2 linked regions of the Homo sapiens genome follow. The protein of the gene in region 2 purifies or fractionates together with the protein of the main gene of each other region. This does not show direct contact. Each region holds a gene or a part of one and is shown on either strand. Other genes may lie near its edges.

Region 1 (3,749 bases), on a different chromosome or scaffold from region 2:
CTACCACGGGCATGGGGAGTGAAAGGTTCTTGAACAAGAAACACATTAATAAGGAAGGAGAGATTCAGGGTGTTCCCCAGGCCATGGAGAAAGATAAGGCATCCCCAAATCCCCTATTTCCCTTCTCCAGCCTCACATGAAACACCAAACAATTCAGCAAAGAAAGAAAGTGGCAAATGAGACAGAAGATGCTGAAGAAGAATGCTGCCATCCCCTGCACCCGCCCTTCCTTGCCAAATCCCCTTTCCAATTGCAGTACATAGTGGCATTAACCTCACAGAGCATCCAACAGATGGCAGTGGGCTGTCTGGAGGATACTGGTGGGAGGGTCCATAATTTGTCCCTTAGACCCTCTTCTGTGACCCAGCTCTCTCTTCTTTCTGGTGCTTGGACAAGAGAAGCCTGGGGCCAGGGCCTTTGTTAAGAGGCAGAGCCATGGTGCCAGGATCAGGCAGATCTGGCAGCACAGGGCTGCAGATGCAGCTGTGGGGGAAATGAACGATGGTGTCAGAAGACCAAACCCCATACAGCGTGGGTTGGGCCAAAGGGGAATTCAAGGGTTCCCTTCTATTTACTTGAGAATTGAGGGAACATTTGAGATAAATTCAGAGGACAAGAGCCACCTCAGATGTAGGCAAGGGCAGGGCTTGGGGCAGGTGAGGGATATCAAGGTTCGGGAAGCTGCCAGCCTTAAGTCGTTCAGATTTAGAAAGACAAGAGCTCCCTCCACACAAATAAGGTCATAAATTTGAGGTAGGAGGGTCAGAAAGACAAATATCTATAGCACACACTGATTTGCTTTCTATCTACCCCTCCCTGCCCCCAACCATTCCTCACGGTCCCCATTTATCACCACAAGACTTCTATGATCCCAGTTCCTGTCCTGGCATAAGGTCCTGTTCCTCACTCTATCCCTGGGAGTGGTTCTGACTTGAAATTACATGGTTTATATCCTGTGCCTCTCTTTTTCAGGCCTGGGAGAAAGCCGTTTCTTCTGCTCCCCTGGCTCTCTCACTGAAGGGAACTGACTCGTTTTTTCCTTTTTCTTTAGAGAGGACCATCTTGTGAGGCAGGGACACACAGTGCTCAGCCAGTGCTGGAGTTGCGGGGGGGGGTGGGCTGCGGTGCAGAGGCTGAGCAGGCAGGAGGGCAGGTGTCTCCGCAGTGAGGCAGAAGGGGAGGGGGACCGTTTGGGCAGCTGCAGTTTGCCGCAGTGTGTGAGTGTGCGCGCTGAGCTCCGGCTCCAGCTCCGCCCCCACCCCCCACCCCAGCATGACAAGTCATTTTCTTGGCTGCTTCTGCATGGGGGGTGGGGATGGGGGGATGCAGAGAGAGAGAAGAAACTGGCTCCTCTGTTCAAGAGCCCCCATCTTGGGAAGAGAAGCAGAGATGAGGTGGGGGTAGGGCTGAGACTGGGAACCTGTGGGGTTGACACGACTGGAAATGCAGGGCAGCCGCTGGGGAGGGAGTTCTCCGTCTCCAGAGTGGCCTCGGCAGGGCCAGAAAGGGGGGTTTAGAGTCCCATTCTAAAGCTAGCCGCAGGGAATAGGGTGGGGGAGCCCACTGCAAACCGGTTGGTCTGTAAGGAGGCGCGTGCCACGTCTTAGTGACCCTTTCCTCCCTTCTTTTCCATAGTGTCCCCCACCTTCCCTTACTTGGCAAAAACTCACTGCCCTGCTCACCCCCAGCATAGGAGCAGCTGAGCAATCCAGCAGCTGACACCCAGGGGCCCTCCTATTAGGCACATTCCCATAACATCCCCCTTTCTCTCAGATTCTTCTGCCTCTGACCAGAAACATAGCCCCCAAACTCCTCCAGCATCCTGGGCTGTCAGGCAGAGCCAGTGGCACCACCCTCTGCTGCTGTCCCAGGCTGATTTCTCCCATCCCCGCCCAGCTGGAGAGGTGGACTGTCACAGCCCCTGGTGGCCTCTGGTTCTGGGTCCAGGCTGGGCCCACAGCCAGTAACGTTCATCTTCTCTCTCCATTTCCCCATCCTGCCTACTGCCACTGGGCTAGTTCTAGATGTGCCAGATTAGGTACCAGCACCCTTTCCATGACCCCCATCCCACCTCCCTATCACAGTGTACCCCCACATGCCAAGCCCTTTGGTTCGGTTCTTACCCTGGGGTGTAGGAGGAAGCCTCTCATGGAGGCGGCAGCTCCGGCCTCAGCCGGCAGCTTCAGGGAAGAGTCTGCAGCACTTAGGGTGGGAGTGGGGCGGGCGGTGGGGGGGGGAGGGGGGTGCTTGATGAGGAGGGCGGCGCCAGGGCGGGGAAGAGGGGCTGGTCCGTGACGAGGCACTGGAGACTTAACTGTTTCTTTGCCTTCACGACGTCTGAGCTCCAGTGCTTTTGCTTGGCTCTGTGGGGCTGAGGGATTGTCTAGCAGCTCAAGGAGCCTCTGCAATGTCCTATGGCCCATAGGACCTTTCTCTCCCAACCCTGCTTAGTTAGGAAATATTCTTTTGGCATCAGCCAAAAGACCAAAGCCCCATGCTAGGGCACAGAGCGAGGCTATAGGAGGCATGGGCTGCGTGGGCTCTCCCCCTTCTCTTAGAAACCATCTGCTGCCTCTCTCCTCAGATGGATCCAGGGAGTGACCTTCAGTCCCTGGAGGAGCAGGAGACAAAGGCTGGGGGCCCAAAAGCATGGGGTAGGTGTGGGGAACTGCTTAAGACAAAGGTTGGGGATGCAGAGATGTGCTGCCTTCTTCTGAACCTCAGCACTACAGAAACCAAGGAGGGCAGAAATAAGTCTTATTTTAGGGTTAGAGGGTAGTTTGAAATTCCGGAGTGGACACATGGTCCCTAGCCTGTTGGGGTGGGGCACAGGGACCCTGAGAGCTACATGAAGTTTCATGGGAATGCAGCATAACACAGTAACCACACAGGCACTGATTCTTGGGATTCTTGAGTCATTGGATATGAAGAGACAAGTCCCTGAAGGGACAGGGAGCTTTCTGCCTTACAGTGAAGGAGTTAACAAGGACCAAGAAGGATCACCAGGGCCTCCGGCCCAAGCAAGGTTGTAGGCCAATTATTAAATGTAACAGAAGTACTCTTTAGATTAAAAAAACCCTATAATGACTTTGTAGGGTGATTGGGTTCTTGCTCTCTCCTTGTCTCTTTGCTGTTTCTATATTATATTATTTGGATCTTTCTAATGTTGATCCTGTTTCCCTTAGTCTCTACCTCCATCTCAGATTTAGTAAAGCGCTCTAGGACTCAAAGGAAGAATCTGGAGAGTGGTAGCACTTCCTTCCAACCCGAGGATGCTCATGCTCTTACATAGTCCTTCCCTGCCCTCTTCCCATCCACCCTCCCCAGTTTGGCCAGCTCCTAAGGCCTTCCTCACAATCACAGCCACCCACTCACACCCAAACACTAGCCCCACCCTTGCCCCAGGCTGCCAAGAGTTACTTTTGAAGGTCAGAGAAGCCAAAATAGTCTGTGCTCTCAGCATCCCCCATCCCCCCTTAATTGCAGCCAGAGGAGAGGAGGAGCTGAGTCACTAGTACTCTTGGGGGTTGAGGGGACAAAAGGGGAGCAATCCTTGCTTAGATCCGGGGATGCAAATCTGCGACAATGGCAACAACCCCGTTTGGGTAGAAGCGGCCATCTGCAGAGATACACAGGGAAAACCAGGCTGAGTTCTGAGCATCACAAAAGGGAAATACCCCTCTTCTGCAACTTCATCGTTCTTATTTCCTCCCACCTCAAGCCTTCTATCTCCTCCCTGCTTTCTAGGG
Region 2 (3,159 bases):
ACTGTTGAAGCCTTGCATTTCAGTATGTTCTACAGCTTCTGTATCATCACCTGAAATTTGCCTAAAAAAAAAAATACAAATAATTCTTTGATTTTAGATACAAAGAAAACAAGTCTAAACATCAATTTTCTGTTCCATATAGGAAATAGTTTCAGTCAAGAAATCTGCTATGTCAAAAACTTTTTCGCATTCTTCATAATATTCAATAAAGTCAATTCTATTTTTTCTTTTTTTTTGAGATGGAGTCTTGCTCTGTTGCCCAGGCTGGAGTGCAGTGGCACGATCTCTGCTCACTGCAACCTCCACCTCCTGGGTTCAAGTGATTCTCCTGCCTCAGCCTCCTGAGTAGCTGGGACTACAGGCGTCTGTCACCACGCCCAGCTAATTTTTGTATTTTTAGTAGAGACAGGGTTTCACCTTATTGGCCAGGCTGGTCTCAAACTCCTGACCTCATGATACGCCCACCTCGGCCTCCCAAAGTGCTGAGCTTACAGGTGTGAGGCACCACACCCGGCCAGTCAATTCTATTTTTATGGGATGATTATATGGTTTGTTGAGTAAGCACTTTTGTTTCTCTTTATGAATCCTACATTTGGGTACAGTATTTCATGGCTAATGATCATTGTAAATTGAAAAGAAATACAATAAAGCTCAAGTCCATTTTTTCTTGGTTGGTAGCTCTGGTGAAAAGATCTTTAGGGAGACATTTAGTGATAAAAGAATATTTGGTTTTACTTAGCTTGATATAATAGACATATCCTAAACAATTGTTTAAAAATAGCATTTTCGGGCCGGGCGCGGTGGTTCATGCCTGTAATCCCAGCACTTTGGGAGGCCGAGGCAGACGGATCACAAGGTCAGGAGATGGAGACCATCCTGGCTAACACGGTGAAACCCATCTCTACTAAAAATACAAAAAATTAGCTGGGCGTGGTGGCAGGCAACTGTAGTCCCAGCTACTCGGGAGGTTGAGGCAGGAGAATGGCGTGAACCCGGGAGGTGGAGCTTGCAGTGAGCCGAGATTGTGCCACTGCACTCCAGCCTGGGCAACAGAGCGAGACTCCGTCTCAAAAAAAAAAAAAAAAAAAAAAAATAGCATTTTCAATGTTCTAGGGAAATTTGCTATCTTAAAACACTGCAGGAGATATTCAGAAGAATATCTTTAAAAAAGTTACAGTTTGAATAACTTTAGAAAAGTTAAAAATCATCCCTTAAATTGTCTTATAAATTTGGATTTTAGTCCATTATTCAAAAATTACTGAAAATGAATGTAGTATGCTACATATTACTACACTAAAGTGTTACATTGATAAAACTAAAATGAAAGTTTCAGCATTTTAAATTTCCTCTCAGTTAAATTAAAAAAAAAAACAGACCTGAAAACAAATTACTAAAACATTTGTAAGAAAGGCGAATTCAACTTACAAGCAGGCATTGAAGACACTTCAGCTGTTACAATACTTTTTATTCCCAAGTTTGATAAGCCACCTCTGATTAAGCCACACGTAAATGCTAAATACTAAAAGGAAAAAAAATCATTAAAAATAGTAAGGATTTACTAAAATAGTAAAGCTATTGATAAATACAACATTACATGATTTATCATCAGTAAGTCATTCCTGTTTAAAAAAAGGATTTTGAAGAACTGTTCAAATTACTGAAAAATATTGATATATTTCCCAGCTCCCTGGAAACTAAAGCATGGACGTAGGACTTAAGACTTAAGCTCAGCCAATTAAGTACTCCAGTCCAGGACTGTGAATCTAGACTCAGTGACAAAAACAAGCCAGAAACTGATCAGAATTAGTTCTGGAGGCAGTAAAGGTAGTTTGTGTCTACAGTCCCTGCTGCCTGCAGGATTCTAAGTAGATACAGTCTGCAGAGTGACTTGGCTATCTTACTGGCTGCCTTAACCTCCCCTGGTTATTGCCTATTCTTTGAGCTTATCAATTTTGTTAGCTTACAAGCAGAATTTCTTTCCCCTATTTACAACCAAGAATCTTGACTTGTTCAAGACTTATAGCTTGCCACAACAAAGAATTATCTGGTTGAAAGTATCAACAGTTTGGACGTTGAGAAACCCTGTCATATAGAAACAAAGAAAGGGAATAGGGCTGAGCTACAAAACCAAAAGTCATGACAAGAACTGGATTGAAAAATTAGCAATTCAGGGAATTTTTGATTACCCACATCTATACTGCATGATGTTCAACATACTACATTATCTACGAATAATATAAAATATTATCTTATAAATAATATACATAAATGGGCACTAATAAGTAACTAGATCTGAGTCATGAAATTTTAAGCTGGAAGAGGCCTTAGAGATTGTTCATCCCAAGAGTTCTTAATCGGGGAATTTGTGACCCCTATGAAAATAAAAACCATGTATATGTGCGTATTTATGGGGAAAGGTGTTCCAGTTCTCAAAGATGTCCATAACTCAAAATAGTTAGAAATCACTGAATTGGTCCAACTTACTCTTTTCACAGCTGAAGAAACCAAGATCCCAAAAAGTTAAGTGAGAACCAGAAATATTAAACTAAGAAGTTAGTAAAAAAGAGAAAATATGCCAGGCATGGCCTATAATCCCAGCACTTTGGGAGGCTGTAATCCCAGCATTTTGGGTGGCTTTTGTAATCACGTCTGTAATCCCAGCACTTTGGGAGGCTGTAATCCCAGCATTTTGGGTGGCTTTTGTAATCACGTCTGTAATCCGAGCACTTTGGGAGGCTGAGGTGGGTGGATCACGAGGTCAGGAGTTTGAGACTAGCCTCGCCAACATGGTGAAACCCTGTCTCTACTAAAGATACAAAAAATTAGCCAGGCATGGTGGCGCACACCTGTAATCCCAGCTACTCAGGAGGCTGAGGCAGGAGAATCACTTGAACCCAGGAGGCAGAGGTTGCAGTGAGTCTCACACTCTGTCCGAAAAAAAAAAAAAAGAGAGAAAATATACACATTAACCATAAAAATGTAATTAGAGCCTGGATACCCCAAAAATATAGAAAATAGGCAATCAGGCCGGATGCAGTGGCTCACACCTGTAATCCCAACACACTGGGAGGCCGAGGTGAGGTGATCACTTGAGCCCAGGAGTTCAAGACGAGCCTGGGCAACATCGTGGGATCCCATCTCTAAAAAATTTTTTTAAAA

What was found. Proteins that work in one complex are often made in the same cells at the same time.
Region 1: the proteins of TRAPPC6B (region 2) and MAP1A purify together in Homo sapiens (affinity purification with mass spectrometry; one large-scale study listed by BioGRID and IntAct). This does not show direct contact.

The regions. Positions count from the first base shown.
Region 1 is NC_000015.10:43,516,075-43,519,823, reverse strand, and holds the start of MAP1A (microtubule-associated protein 1A), read right to left. Parts: upstream 2,217-3,749; 5' UTR 2,124-2,216; intron 1-2,123. UniProt on the Homo sapiens protein: Structural protein involved in the filamentous cross-bridging between microtubules and other skeletal elements.
Region 2 is NC_000014.9:39,150,321-39,153,479, forward strand, and holds part of TRAPPC6B (trafficking protein particle complex subunit 6B), read right to left. Parts: intron 1,520-3,159; coding exon 1,426-1,519; intron 62-1,425; coding exon 30-61; 3' UTR 1-29. UniProt on the Homo sapiens protein: Component of a transport protein particle (TRAPP) complex that may function in specific stages of inter-organelle traffic.